Regions from separate parts of the Homo sapiens genome. Here region 2 is linked to region 1. The links come from fine-mapping of genetic effects on gene expression. A gene starts in region 1. The other region holds a variant in brackets. All regions are shown on one strand. Distances are from middle to middle. Region 1 holds the start of LINC01963 (long intergenic non-protein coding RNA 1963). Region 2 overlaps XRCC5 (X-ray repair cross complementing 5).

What was found.
Region 2: its variant is fine-mapped to the expression of LINC01963 in whole blood (TOPMed, PIP above 0.99).

The regions. Positions count from the first base shown.
Region 1 is chr2:216,212,086-216,220,618 of GRCh38, reverse strand. It overlaps LINC01963 (long intergenic non-protein coding RNA 1963), which reads right to left and starts at 3,730. Exons shown (of 1, transcript NR_037701.1): 1 at 427-3,730.
Region 2 is chr2:216,173,627-216,181,626 of GRCh38, reverse strand. All of the region lies in intron 16 of XRCC5 (X-ray repair cross complementing 5), which reads right to left. It also overlaps the pseudogene LOC100421349. Among named protein-coding and RNA genes, the nearest start is that of LINC01963, 39 kb to the left of the region's middle. The variant C/T (reference allele first, on the strand shown) is at 4,552.

The DNA of each region.
Region 1 (8,533 bases):
TATAGCCCCTCTCATCTTGTAGATTCTGGCTGTTTGTGACCTTCTCTCCCTACTGGACCATGAACTTCTGGAGGACAACGAATGTGTGTTCTTCAAACTCTAATCTTCCAGAGTGCCCAGCAGAGCTCTGGATATAGCAGGTGCTCAATACATTATTTATTAAGCGGAATTTTACAGTCAAGAAACCTAGGACACATGTCAGAGAATGAGTAGGCACATACCTGCTTGTGGGGCAGCTGGAATATCAATAGAGAGGCATCTCTTCCTGCTAGGCATGATTTTGGGTAAGATCCCTGTGGCCCACATGATGCCCATGAGGACAAACATAAAAAGACAAGGCTGCATGCCTGGGACCCAGTGTTGTGCTGAACCCCTATTAACTTCAATAGGGAAGGCATAAGGTTCAAGACGCCAAAGAGACCCAGAGCCAGCAAAAGAGACGTGGGGTTTTATTGAGGGCTTACATACAGGGGAGGGAGTCCAGAGGTGGCGGGCTGGATAGAATTGTCTTACATACAGAAATGGTCCTGTGGTGTTGGGCTGGACAACATATCCGCATGGCCCGGTGGTGGCAGGCTGGGCAGGAAAACCACAACTGCCTGCAAACATCATGCAGTTTATACAGCATTTTCACTTAACCCCTTTCCCTAATGAGCGACACCTGGCAACTGTCATTTAACCCAAAACTTAAGGCCTCAATCCTCTCTACAGCCTGGGTTTCATGGGATGGGCCAGGGGCTCAGATGTCTATTATAGATAAGAAACGAATCTCCGATTGGCCACTCCCGGATTTTCTAGCTCGAAACACACATTCAGGAGCATCTGCCATATAGGGTCATTATAAAGGTGTGCTTAAGTTATTGCTATCAGGTGCATTTACCCTACACCGGGTAAGACACTGACCACATGGACTCTTTCTTCATAATGTGCAAGAATTCATGAATAAAAGGACACAAAGACATACAATATCTAATAACAGTGAACATTTATAGAATACTTGCAGCTTGTTTCATATTCACATTCTCAATAAATGCAGACAGATGATGTCTTCACAATTTAGTAGTCTGACCCTTTCCACCTATATAACATGGACAAATGTTTATCACCTCCTAACACAGCAAGAACATCTAGCACACATATCCGCACACACACACTTATAGAAAGAAGGGGACTAAAATGATTGAGTCCCATATTTCAGGTGCTGTTCTAGGCATCTGACAGATATAAAACACACTCCCCAAAGTCCTGCTCATGTGTCTGTGTCTAGTTCAATCCCCTCCCTCCCCTTTTACCCTTGCCTTACCACCCCTTGTACCACATGTATCTTCCTTTTAACTCCACACATTTATTCTCTGGAGATATAATAATCTCAGTGGCTGTCATGGGTTGAATTATGATCCCCCAAAAAGCTGTGTTGAAGTCCCAACCCTCAGTACTACTGAATGTGACCTTACTAGGAAATACAGTCTTTCCTAATGTAATTGGTTGATAAGCTCAGATGAGTGGGGTGGGCTCCTTATACGACTGGTGTCTTATAAGAAGATGCCCTAGGAAAGCAATACAGTGGCCTAGGAAGGGAATGTGTGCGTGTATGCATGTGCACTGGACACTGGGATTATGCCTTGTGTGTGGAATAACAATGTATATGTGTATGTGTGTGAGAGAGGGTTTGAGTCTGTGTGCCCATGCATTATGCATGAGAAGCCAAGGGATGATTTTTGCCCATTTACCATCACACACATGTATACTCTTCAGTCCTGAAATTCTGAGTGTCCTCTCTGCCTGGACCATTAATTAGAATCATGTATTTCCCCTGCCTCCCTTTGCCAGTGGGCAGAAGGCAGTTTCTGAGCAGTGATTAAGCCTCTATCAGGACACTAATGCAAGTGGCCCATAAAAGGCATCTAACCCTGACACTGTTGGAGGATCCAGGACCCAGGGAGTTGGAAAGAGGGAAGGAAAATCTTTAAAAGAGGGAGCCAGGTGAAGCGACACACTGCAATGTGACTGACCTGCTGAGATTCCAAGACCTGAAACACAAACATACATGTGCACGCACACCTCCTCCCATCTAGAACCCAACTGTTTTTGACTTCTGTTCTCTTAGCGGGCTTCCCATTCCTCCTATGCCCCCAACATTATCTGAGAGGCAGCTGTCTGTTTTGTAGGAGAAAAGAGATAGTCTGTTTGAGTGATGCACACTGGATCACAGAGCAAGTTATGGACAAAGATGGAACTGTCTCTGAGTGTCATTACTTAACTTGCTAATCCACATAGGGCTGGGGGTATCCACTCATAAAAAGCAGGGCAGGACATTTTAAAGCCAGACAGGGGCTGTGTAGAGAAGGAAGAAAAATAGAATTGCAGGGACTGATAATGGAAGTATTTACTGTACACTTACTATACACCAAACATTTTATGTGGTTCATGCTCATTTAATCCTGACAGCCCTGAAAGTTAGGTTAACATAAACCCTATTTGACAGGTGCAGAAACTGAGACTGAGAATAGTCAAGCAACTTGGCTGAGGTCACAAAGCCAGGATATAGTGGCAGGTTTTGAAAGAGGCAGTTTGATTCCAGGCTCGGCTCTGATAATATTAAGCGGGCATTAAAAAGCAGGCTTCTGGGAGATGGAAAAGGAGTGGTGGAATCATCAAATGGCATGGATGTTGTACATAACTGAAGCCCTGGATTACAGAATTAAAATTCCATGTCTGTACTCCTCCCTCCCGCTCCAGCTCCACAGTTGGCGTGGGCCAGCCCAAGGCTACTGGTGGTGGGAGGAATAGCTTCATGTCCTCAAAGCACTCACCTAAATTCTGGTGTAGGGAGAGCTTAAAGTCTGTGGAAGAGACCCAGCATGCCTTTCCAAGTAGGTCCTGGGTTAGAAAGATCTGGGAGGCCTGTGTGTTAAAAGAGATGGCAGGAAATGATTCAGCTCTATATCTGTAAAATCTCTGACAATGACAGGATGTGAGGAATGACAGGAGGATCAGGAGGGCTGGGCGGGGGTGACTGAAATGTACTGACCCTGGCTGCAAACTAAAAATAAAATCCTAAGTCCCCTCCACCAACTGAATAGAAACGCTCTTGGCAAAGAGGACCCCAGAAAAACCTTAGAAACTGAGTTCCCAGCCATGACAGGACAAGAGGTCAGACACACCTCATTATACTCCCCTCCCTTTTATGGTTTAGACACAACCAACCAGCATTAATGTCAAAATAGAGGTCATAAGACTGACCAAACACACTCTTTGTGGCAACAAGATACCAAATTACAAACAGGACCTAAGGCCATGCCAAACAAGGGTTAAGTCATGCAGCCCTACACTTAAAAGAATAAACTATGTTCTAACTGCCACAAGTTTTCCTTTTCTCTAGCAGCTAAATAAGCACTGGCCTCTAAATAAACAATACTAAAACACTTGCAGCTCCACCAGATGCTGACTAACTGAACTCCACCAGCCATAACTACAGCTTTGATTGGACAAGAGTGATTTCGGTAATTTTCTCCTGGTAAGGAGCCCACCGACCATGACTGGTTCTAGCGGGTTTACAGAGATTGCATACTTGAGTGCCTTCATGTCCTGAATAGACCTTTTGATGTATAGGGCCTGATTGCAATATTTAAATATTAAGTCTCCACCCCAAGGTGAACATGTGTCATATGTAAGATGCATGTTTAATATGCATGCATCAGGACCACTTTCATTAATATTCATAGCTCCTCCTGTAACCTGTTGAATATGTGTTAAGCCAACCCATTCAGCATAAAAGCATAAAACTCCTACCCCAACCCCTCCTCCTTGGAGGTGCCTGTCTCTGGGCTTCTGCTGGAGGAGGCTGTGCTTCCTGGCCTGCAGGATGGCCACCTGGCAGGCTGTCACCCTTAAGAAATAGTGTCTCCATTTTTCTAAATTTGTATCTTATGATTTTTTTTTTAAAGTTAACGTATCTGGCAAAGATGGGATTCTGAAGCAGCCCCTGAATTCCTTTTCCTGTGTCACCCAGGACACCAGGTACAGCCAAGGTCCCTTTGAAAAAGTCCAGTTGTTCCTGACTATGCTGGGAAAGGATCTGGGTAAGTGCTATCAAAATCCAAGATCTCCCACTTTTAGGTTGCAGACTTGATTTCTTCTTTTAGGCCTCCTCCATCTGTGGAACTCCGGAGGAGACCCTCCTGCTGGCCTTGGGTTTGGGAGGGCATTCCTAGTTCTTCTCAGTCCTTTCTGTTCTCCTCCCTGGACCCCGGAGGGAACATCTCTCCTAGCCTTGGGTTTGGAGGAGGCCTTCCTGATTCCCTCCATCCAAGGGCCCTGGAGAAAATGCATTTGTGGGCTCCGGGCTTATGGAGAGGCATTCAGGTTGGATTCAACTGGTTCATAAGGTTTGTGGGGATGCTCACACTAAGGGCACTGGAAGAGATATCTTCATAAAGTCAGTGCAATAGGTAACTTACCCACTAGGGGCAGGAACTCCTGTAGAAGTTCAAAGGCATGCCAGGTTTTCCAGCACTTCAGCTAGCTGCATATTGTGGCCTGTTCTTGTGCACATTTTAAAACTGAACGGGCAAATTACAGCAAGGAAAATTCAGAGCTCAAATGCCCAACCTGCAACTATACAATTAAAATGTAGAGTTTTCTAAAGCTATCTCTTTTTTGTTTTCGGCCTGCTTTGAATTTGCTGTTATTAAGCTACTGCTGTTAAGATAAAACTCATTGTTTATGATACTACTAATTCAAGGCTACTTGGAGCTTTCTTTACAGTTCAGCCAATTGTAGCTAAAATGTAAACACTGAAAACTCATTTGAAACTTCAGGAAAAAAAAAAGGGGTAAAAGGTTTTTAAAAATAAAACTGCCATGAAAACTACTTTTCCCAAGACTTTGGTCCATAGCCTTCATTGGATTACCTACTGGGACAAATAAAGTTTAGCCATGTGAACAGGTCCCAATTTTGTCAGAAATAATTTGGATCCAGCTGTCTTTTGTTAAGTGGTGAGTCTGTATTACCATCTCATGGCTAAGGTTCCAGAGTAAAAGCTGTAAGATCTTTGTGTGTATGTGTTTAAATGTTTGTATATGAACATGTATTATGTTGTGTTGTATCTAGCATGGTACCAAACTGGTTTATAAGTAAATTATACTCATAAATTAAGTAAGTCCAAATACTTTTCAGATTCATGTGAACTTAGTAATCTGGTAAATAAAATGGTTTTAAAATTATTGGTAAAATAAAACTAGAAATGTCTTCAGAATTGTCAGCATACATTTTTTTTTTAGTCTGGGTTTACTGATTATTTTATATTTGCCTCCGCTAGGTGTTTTAAGGTATCAGGATTTGGCACAAAAGATTATAAGACTATAAACCCAGTCAAAAAGAGAATGATCTTTGTGTGAATTTTTTGACAAATAAGACTAATTTAATATTGTTGGTTCAATGAAAACAGCTAAGTTGTTAGCTGTTTTGTTAGCTTCTGAGTTGTTGGCAAAAATATCCACATGTTTAAGGTTCTGACTTAAATGAACATCTGATATTCACAGGCTACAAAAATGGTTAACAGGTCATACAGGTTACTAAACAGCTGATGACTCGTCACATAGAACTTACAGGTAAGTCACTGTTGTAACCTTGCTTTTTGGCTCTTCTGTTGCTCAAAAGGTTTTTAAGGGTTAATGAGTGCCTGTTCACCTCCATCCTCATCTGGCCTAGAATGTTTAATTGGCTCCAAGTCCCTTGGCCATAAGGATCCCACCAAAGAACAGAATGAACCTGCAGCAGGTAGCCACACCACCCCGGCAAAGATATGGGAAAAAATAAATGTTTGGTCACCAATGTCATCTCTGGCACATCTTGGCTAAAAGGGGAGAATGTAAACTCAGCCTCCCAAAGTGCTGGGATTACAGACATGAGCTACCATGCTTGGCCAGAAACACGTTTCTAAAAATTGTGACGTGATTCTCATCTTTAAAGTGCTGATAGAGAACAGACAATTCAATATTTCTTGCCTCCTAGGTTTTCACTAAAATTTAAGGTTACTAAGAGTAAGAATTTTAGTTAATATAGAATTCTATATATAAAATGTGCCAAATAAATGTGTTCTTATGGAGAAAAAGAATAATTTTATTTAATTTGGATGTTATTTAAAGGTTAGTTATGAAAGAAGGTAGAAAACCAGTAAGTAGGAGAGATGTGAAAAAAGTTAGCTATGAAGATGTATTTTTGGTAAGGAAGGTTCAAAAGAGAATAATTTCATATATGAAAGTATCTTGCAGGGTAAATTTCTGTCCTAAAGTAAAATGACTGGTTATTAAGGAAAGGGGAAATTTAGTACAAATCAGAAAGTACAAGCATGTTATAGATGGTCTAAGTTGTGATAAGGTTTGTGAGAGAATACTTATGAAAAGCATTTTGTGTGGGATTAAGTTGGCTATAATTAAAATTATTTATAAAAGTCTTTCTAAATTTTGGTCCCTTGTTTTAAAAGAAAGTTGTCTTAAAATATGATTTACTCTTAATACAATTAAAAGAGGTTTTGATTTTTAATTCTAAACCTGTTTCTTGTTGAAAACTTCTCAGATTAGTATCTTGGAAGTTCCACTTTTGCTGCGTCTTGCTACTTTGTTTTTCTCCCCCTTTGAGAAGGCCTGAGATGATAACTTTTCCCTTCAACTGTTTTGCCAGCTCCTGTAACTTTTTCCCTCTGGTTCTAACTGCCACTGTGGCCTGATGCTAAAATGTTTTATCTTGAAGGTCTCGAAGAGCAATGTTTTCCTACAGTATACCTTGATTCTGTACTCTTGGCTTTTCCTGATATCCGAATTGTTCCATATAACCAGAAAACTTCCCATGCTGTTATTAAGAGTCATGTATTCCCCGGCTCAAGGTACAGTTTTCTAGTTTCCTGTTTCCTCCATAACATAAAGTTCATTCATGACCCCAGACACACTCTTCTTGTGTCTGATTAATTCAAGTAAACTTTTTACAGTTTGATTTCCAAGTTATCTAAATGGGCTTCTCATAGGAGAAGCAACCACACTGTAGGTTTTTCTTTGCCTTTTTGGTAACTGGCCTAAGAACCAAAGATTTTACATTTTATCAAGATAATTCCCATGTTTTCTTTATTAGATTTTTTATTACTTAGGAAAACTAAGCTTTAAAAGGGTTAAGGTTTTTACATCCATGTGACTTTCCATATTGCATTTAAAGTCTTTTGATTATTACTCTTGGTTTAATGAATAACTATTACAATGACCTGTAATTCCATTTTGATTAAAAGCTTTGAGCCTTTGAACATCTTTGACAAATGTCCTCAAAATCAAATAAACATTGCTAATTCTTCATGTTTTGCTTTTCAGAGTCAATAAAACCTTTTTTCTTTTAAACTATTTACAGCTTACAGAAATTGGGTAAAACATTGAAGATTACCTTTCTCTCTACCTAGTATCTCTAGAATTTGAAAACTATTCAATCCCCCTAGGCCAATCTGCTTTCCATTGCCAAGGCACTACTGCTAAAGCAATACAGTATCAAGCACCCTCCCAGTAGGCCCATGGACTATCACAGAAGGGGTGGGCACATGAGATTGTAAGGGCCAGTTTCAACAGATAAAATTAGTTCAGACCCTCCAAATTAAAGATGGGCATACAGATTACCAAACAGCTCATGGCTCAACACACAGAACTCATAGACAAGTCACTTTTGTAACACTGCTTTTTGGTTATGTTGCTCAAAAGGTTTTTAAGGGTTAATGCGTGCCTGTGAACCTCCATCTTCATCTGGCCTCCAATGTTTAATTAGTTTTAAGTCTTTTGGTTCCAAGTCCCTTGGCCACAGGGATCCCACCAAAGAACAAAATGAGCCTGGGGCAGGTAACGACACCACCCTGGCAGTGACATGAGACAAAATAAATGTTTGGTCATCAGTGTTGCCTCTGGCACATCTTGGCTAAAAGGGGAGAATGTAAACTAAAAATAAAATCCTAAGACTCCTCCCCTACAGATTGAATGGACCCCCTCTTGGCCAAGGGGACCCCAGAAAATTCTTAAAAACGGAGTTCCCAGCCATGACAGGACAGCAGGTTAGACACGACTTGTTATACTCCCCTCCCTTTTCTGGTTTACAGACAATTGACCCGCATTAAAGTTAAAATAGAGATCCTAAGATTGACAGAACAGATTCTTTGTGGCAGCAACATAACAAATTACCATGCCAGGCAAGGGTTAAGTTATGCACCCCTACGCTTAAAGAATAAACTAGGTTCTAACTGCAACAAGGATTCTCTTTCTCTCTAGCAGCTAAACAAGCAGTGGCCTCACCATAAACACTAATAAAACACTTGCAGCCCTACCAGATGCTGACTAACTGAACTCTACCAGCCATAACTATAGCTTTGACTGGACAAGAGAGTGATTTCAGTAACTTTCTCCTGTTAAGAAGCCCACCGACCATGGACTGGTTCTAGTGGGTTTACAGAGATTGCGTACTTGAGTGCCTTCCTGTCCTGAAAAACCTTTTGATGTACTGGGCCTGA
Region 2 (8,000 bases), 39 kb after region 1:
GCATTGGGATCCAAAGATATACCGGTTCTCAAATCACAAGCATCTCTTTAGAGTAGGATTTGGGGGTAAAGATAAGAATGGCCATTTTTTTAAAAGAGTTAATCAGCTTTAGAAAGCCGATGCTGCAAGGGCATTAGCAGGAACATGGTTTGAATACAAGGTTCACAGAGGGAATCTGTATAAGAATGGGTCGGGAGTGGCAGAATGGGACCAGATTGTGGCAAGCCTTGAATGGGGGACTGAATGGGAGTAATTAATAAGGGCTGACCCAGAATAAAATCTGTGCTATAAGAACTTAAATCTGTACAAACATATGGGCAGGAATGAAGGAGAACTTTGAAGGTTATTAATGAAGGATGCTGGAACTGTCCAATGATAAAATAATGAAAGCCTGAATTCGGATAGTGATAAGATGGAAAGGAAAAGACAGACCTGAGAAGTAAATTAGAAGATGATTAGAAAGCAGAAGAGAAATGGATACAAAGTTGTCAGAAATGCCAATGAAGAAACTCAAGGCCGGGCGCAGTGGTTCGTGCCTGTATTCCCAGCACTTTGGGAGGCCGAGGCGGGTGGATGATCTGAGGTCGGGAGTTCGAGACCAGCCTGACCAATACAGAGAAACCCCGTCTCTACTAAAAATACAAAATTAGCTGGGTGTGGTGGTGCATGCCTGTAATCCCAGCTACTCAGGAAGGCTGAGACAGGAGAATTGTTTGAACCTGGGAAGTAGAGGTTGCAGTGAGCCGAGATCGCGCCATTGCACTCCAGCCCGGGCAACGACAGCGAAACTCCATCTCGGAAAAAAAAAAAAAAAGATACTCAAGGGGCAAAACAACAGTTAACAACACTGCTTATTTCTGGAGAAAGTCCCATTAATAACATCAGGACACGCCATCACTTAGGTGGTTGCCTTCCTTAGAATGCCCTTCTTTGGGCCCTCTCCTATCCACCTTTACCATAATGGACCAGGTTATGCCAACCTCCTCCAGGAATTCTTTTTAAGACAGAGTCTTGCTCTGTTGCCCAGGCTGGAGTGCACTGGCATGATCACAGCTCACTGCAACCTCCCGCCTCCCAGGTTCAAGCAATTCTTGTGCCTCAGCCTCCTGAGTAGCTGGGACTACAGGCCCAAGCCATCATGCACGACTGATTTTTGTATTTTTAGTAGAGATGGGGTTTTGCCATGTTGGCTAGGCTGGTCTTGAATTCCTGGCTTCAAGTGATCCACCCGCCTTGGCCTCCCAAAGTGCTGGGATTACAGGCGTGAACCACTGTACCCGGCCCCTCCACGAATTATTCTTCAAAGTAGTCACCTACCTGCATCTGCACCCATATAGTCTGCCTTCCATCCTATTGCCTTTGCTGAACTGTCTGTGTGTTATCTAAGTTACCCCTTCCACCTGTGCCCTAGATCCCATGCCTCTCCGTTACTCAAGGATCTCTTCCAGTCTCATGTCTTAAAGTCTCTATGGCTCCTTCTCCACGATTTATACATACAACTCAGACCTTTTTCCTGAAGTCCAGACCTGCATGACCATCTTCTCCTTCTCAGCAAATGGCAATTCGTCCAGTTGCTCAGACTAAAAATCTTGGGAGTTATTTTTAAACTTTTTCTCTCTCACACACTCTACATTCAAATGATCAGCAAAACTTGACAATTCTACTTTCAAAACAGATCAAAAATCGGACCTCTTCTTACTACCTCCGGTCACGTGGATTAACGCCGAAGCCTTCTAACTCATCTGCCTACCTCAACCTTGCCCTTTTCCTCAACATGGTATGAAATATAAAACCAGATCATTCGCTACTTCAAACTCTTCAATGGTTTCACATTTCACTCAGAGAAAAGCAAAAGGTCTAGGAGGCCTTATGTGATATGTACCCCAGCCAGCTCTCTGACTTCTCAGCTCCTACTTTCTTTGCTCCAGTCACACGGACCTCCCTGATGCTTCTAGCCAAGCATAGTCATCTTGAGCTTCTCAAGAACATGCTGCTCCCTCTGTCTGCAAAGCTCTCCTCCCAGATATCCACTAGGTTCTCTCTCTCACTATCCTCAATTCTCAGTTCAACAGTGAGGACTTCCCTGATCCTCTACATAAAATTATAAGCCCATCTCAACCCAGCATTCCCTATCCCACTATCCTGCTTTAACTTTTCTCTATAGTGCTGTCATGGGCTGAATAGTATCCCCACCCCGCCCCCACATTCCTGTCCTTACCAAAACCTCACAACGTGACCTTACTTGGAAAGAGAGTCCTTGCAGATGTGTGATCAAATTAAGATGAGGTCACTAGGAAAGGCCCTAATCCAATAGGACTGACATCCTTATAAGAAGAGGCAAACTTGGATACAGACATACAAGAACTCCCCTGTTAAGAGAGAAGGAGAGATTACAGTAATGGATCTATAAGTCAAGGGATGCAAGAATTGCCAGCTGTCACCAAAGGCTACAAGAGAGCATTGAACAGATTCTCCCCCATACCTCTCAGAAGGAAGCAGTCCTGTGATTTTGGACTTTAGTCTCCAGAACTGCAAGGATAAACTTCCACTGCTTTAAGGCACTCAGTTTGTGGAACTCCATTACTGCAGCACTAGGACACTAACACAAATGCTTATCACCATTTGACATATATTTTCTTATTTGTTTACTGTCTGTATCTTGGTATGACTGGCACACAGTAGGCATTCAACAAATAATTGTTGAATGGATGAATAAATGGTGTAGGCCTCACTGGTTTATTCCTCTAAAAGCCTAAGGAATGAACATGTCTTTTTGTTGTTCGTTCAGTTTAAACCCATAAGCTGTGTATTTAGCACTGGCTGCCACTTAGGGGAGTAGACAGTCTAGAACTCTCTTTTATCCCCTCCCTCCCTTAATTTTACAGAGATGGAAATGGTTACAATAAAGCTCTATTGAAGGGGGAAATGCAGAAAGAATAACATGCTATATAAGATATATATGCAGATGTACAGGGATGAGATATCACATCCAACATTGTCATGATTATATGCATGAAGACATCTTGACGTTTTATTATTGCTTACTAAGTATGCCTCATCTCATCTTGGTGTACACCTTTTTCTTTTCTTTGATCAAGCTGCTTGATGCCACTGGGAATGGAGGGTTCTCCCAAAATGTACTGTCTCTGACTATATCCCCAATTTATTATACCCTAAAACAATTAACCATCTTGATCACAATACAGGGCATCAGTAGGGATGAACAGGGTTATTCCTATGAAGACACAGAATGTGGGTATGGGCAGAGTTTCAAAGGGAGGGAGACAATAAAGAAGGAGATGTCCACTTTTTAACTTTATATGCTATTATATTACTATTTGCATTTTCCCCCATATAAGCATGTGCTTATTTTTAATGGAAGCCTAAGAAGCAAGTAAATCATCTCGAAACAGTTAAGAGATTGTCATACAAGGAGATAAAAAACAATTGTTTCTATTTCTAGTGAGCTCTCAACAGGAAGACAATTTTCATGGGGTGACACAATACTTCTATTTCATTGATCCTTTTCTTTCTTTTTTGTTTTATTCCTTCTGAACCACATACTTTGTTCTTTTTGTTTATTACTCATATACTTAAAGAGCAGTGGTGAAAAAGGCCCTTAGAAATAATTTCATCTACTGCCCTCAGGAAATCTGAAGCAGATCTGCAGGCATATCTTATCTTTGGTTTGTAGCTTCTACCCTCCTTACAATCCCATACATTTAAAATTCCAATGTATAAGTCTTGCTGGCTTCATTACAATCCACCTCAGAATAATTAGACACAGAGCAAATTGTGGGATAATCCAACCTTAGTTATATTTTCTTCTCAGTCCATGAGACAAAAAAGGATTCAAACAAAATAAATACATGCTTGACAAAAATGGGACAAAAGAAGAAACAAATGAAAGGAATAATGAACCTATAAATTTTCAAAATCTATAAACATTGAACTAAGACTTGATGTACTTGATATACCTGCTGCCACTAAAATTGACTTTCATTTCTCACAATTAATCGCCTTTCTGCTCCAACAAGTTCCTAAAATCTACACAATTTTTCCAGTACTGAGTAAACTTATCCTCTACTAATATGATTTTTCCCTCGAAGCAGAGGATTCAGAAACACATACAGTCTTGCAGCACACATAGCTAAGTTTATTTTTCCTAAAATGCCAATACCTGAAGACTTTTATTTAACATATACTCTATTACCTGAATTGACAGTGTTTTCTTTAGTGTCACCCTGTAAAAATTCACTAGGATCTCATGACCCAAGCTGGTTTAGCTAGGTGAGACCAAAATCATAAAGGTCTCACTAGCACACAAGGTCTCAAGGTGAATAACTTTCAATACTCAAAACGTCACGGAAAACAACTAGATAGAAAGTCAAAAGACAGATTTGAACAAACTATCAACCAAATTGCCCTGACATTTCCAGCACACTTGTCCTAGTAACAGGTGAATACATGTACTTTTTAAGGCCATAGAGAACAACTGGCAGAACAGACTATATGTGAGACCACATAAGAACAAGTCTGAATAAATTCAGA[C/T]GGACTGAAGCCACTCAAAGTATGATCTCCAATCATAACAGAATTAAAAATCAACAACAGGAAGAAATTGGGAAATCTTCAATATTTGGAATTTAAGAACACATTTAAATAACCCAAGAGTCAAAGAAACAATCATGAAAGACATTAGAATATATTTAAACTAAATGAAAACAAAATCATAACACATCGCAATTTATGGTGTGAAGCTAAAAAACTGCTTAGCAGGAAATGTATAGCTTTAAATGCCTATATTAGAAAAGAGGTTTCAAATCAATCATCTAAGCTTCCACCTTAAGAAACAAGAAAATGAAAAGTGAATTACAGCCAAAGTAAGAAGAAGGAATGGAATAATAAAGATCAGAGCAGAAATTAATTAAATGAGAATAATGGAGAAAATCAATAAAACTAACTAAAAGCTGGGATCTTAAAAAGATAAAATCCATAAGCCTTTACCTAGACTGACCAAGAAAAAGGGAAGATACAAAATCCCCAAATCAGAAATAAAGAACAGATCTCAAAAATATTATTATAAGGGAATAATAATCAATGTTATACTAAAAAATTAGACAAAAGGAACAAATTCTTATAAAGACATATTACTAAAACTGATTCAATAAGAAATTTTAAAACTGACCAGATTTATTAGCTTAAAAATTGGGCCCGGTGCAGTGGCTCACGCCTGTAATCCCAGCACTTTGGGAGGCCAAGGTGGGTGGATCACTTGAGGTCAGGAGTTCGAGACCAACCTAGCCAATATGGTGAAATCCCGTCTCCACTAAAAATACAAAAGTTTGCCGGGTGTGGTGGCGGGCGCCTGTCATCCCAGCTGCTTGGGAGGCTGAGGCAGGAGAATGGCTTGAACCCGGGAGACAGAGGTTGCAGTGAGTCAAGATCACACCACTACACTCCAGCCTGGGCAACAGAGTGAGACCCCGTATCCAAAAAAAAGAAAAAAATTGAATTAGTATTAAAAAGCTTCCCACAGCCTCTTCCTCACAGTTCCATGTTGAACTTGAGTTGGAGGAGGCAAGTCTAGTCTTAAAATGGAGGTAAAACCACTACCCGGTTGCCCCTAGGCTGACTCTGGCCGTTGTCATTGCCACTGCCGCCAAGAGGAGGAAGGCCATGATCCAAAGGAATCCAGCGCGGCTGAGAAAATTGTTTATTGGTGGTCTGAGCTTTAAAACTACAGATGATGGGTTAAGAGAACATTTTGAGAAAGGGGGCACACTCACAGATTGTGTGGTAATGACAGAACCCCAAGCAAACATTCCAGGGGCTTTGGTTTTATGGCTTTCTCTTGTGTTGAAGAGGTGGACACAGCAATGTGTGCTTGACCACACAAGGTTGATGGGTGTGGAGTGGAACCAAAGACAGTTGTTTCTAGAGAGGATTCTGTAAAGCCTGGTGCCCACCTAACAGTGAAGAACATTTTTGCTGGTGGTATTAAAGTAGATACAGTTTCAGAAATTACTCTGAAAACTATAGCAAGACTGAAACCATACAAGTTATGGATGACAGAGTGGAAAAAGAGAGAATGTGCACTTTTAACTTTTGATGATCATGATACAATTGATAAAACTGTTGTTTAGAAACACCACACTATTAACAAGCACAACTGTAAAGTGAAAAAGGCCCTTTCTAAACAAGAGATGCAGTCTGCAGGATCACAGAGGTGATGGAGGTGGATCTGACAACTTTATGGGTTGTGGAGGAAACTCTGGAAGTGGTGCAAGTAATTTTGGCTGTGGTGGAAACTTTGGTGGAAGAGGAGGCTCTGGTGGTAGAAGTAGAGGTGGTGGCAGCAGAGGTGGTTATGGAGGGTGTAATGGTGGATATAATGGATGTGGAGGTGACGGTGGGCAACAATGGTGGTGGGCCTGCCTACAGCAGTAGTGGGGGCTATGGAGATGGTGAACCAGGATATGAAAACCACAATGGCGGGTATGGGGATAGTGGTGAAGGATATGATGGTTACAATGAAGGAGGAAATTTTGGCAGTGGTAACTATGGTGGTGGTGGGAACTATAATGATTCTGGAAATTTTAGCAGACAAAAACAATCAAATTATGAACCCATTAAAGGGTGCAGTTTTGGTGGAAGAAGCTCGGGGAGTTCCTGTGGTGGTGGTGGTTACGGATCTGGCGGTAGACGTGACGGATATGGTAGCAGAAGGTTCTAAAAACAGCAGAGAGGGGCTACAATTCTTAGCAGGAGAAAGAACAAGGAGTTGTCACAAAAGTTGCAGGTTATTTGAGATAGTCATCCCAAATGCATTAGAGGAACTGTAAAAATCTGCCACAGAAGGAATGGTGATCCATGGTCAGAAAAGTTATTGCAGCTTAAACAGAAAACCCTTCTTGTGCAGGACTATCATAGCCACAGTTTGCAAAAGTGCAGCTATTAATGAATGCAATATAGTGTCGATTAGACGTACATTCCTGAGCTCTTTTATCTGTTGTAGCTTTGTCTGTTTCTTTTTCATTACATCAAGTATATTGCCCTGTAAATTGTGGTAGTGATAACAGGAATAAAAAAATTAAAGAACTTTCAACTTTTCAATATTTGTGTAGTTTTTCTGTATTTTAGTACAGAAACTTAAAATGCAGTTTTGAAGGTATTTTCTTTTGAGTTAACAAATAAAGAAGATTATTGTTAATTACTATTTTGTATAAATTTTGCTAAAGTTAACTATAAAGAAACATATGCTGACTTGCAGCTCAAGGGGAATCTACTGTCCCCATTTCCAAACCATGACATGAATGGGCACTGACATGTGAAGAGAAGAGATATTTGTATGTTTGCAATGTGTGTTTTAGATTAATAGGATTTGGTATTTAAATTAGCATATTTTTGAATTTAAGAGCATTAAGGTGACCTTCAAATGAAACAATCTCAAAATTCAAAAAACAAAACAAAACAAAAGCTCCCCACAAAGAACTCAGATGGCTTCACTGGTAAATTATATGAAATATGTAAAGAATAAATAATAGAAATCTTGAAGAGAAGGAAACTTCCTAACTCATTCTATGAGTCCAGTATTTTCCTGTTACCAAAACCAAAGACATCACACAAAACAAGAAAACTACAAACAATTTCCCAACAAAATATTAGCTGTCTTAGTGTATTTTGTGCTGCTATAACAGAATACCCAAGACTGGGTAATTTATAAAGAACAGATATTTATTTAGCTCACAGTTCTGGAGGCTGGGAAGTCTAAGAGCATGACACCGGCAGCTGGAGGAGACCACCCCACATCAGAAGGCAGAAGCAAGCCAGAGACAGAGAAGAAATCAGGCCGAACTCATCCTTTTTATAACTAACCCACTCAAGTGATAATGGCCTGAATCCTTTCATGAGAATGATGCCTCCATGACCTAATTACTTCTTAAAGGTCCCACCTCTCAACACCGTTAGAATGGGGATTAAGTTTCCAACACATAAACTTT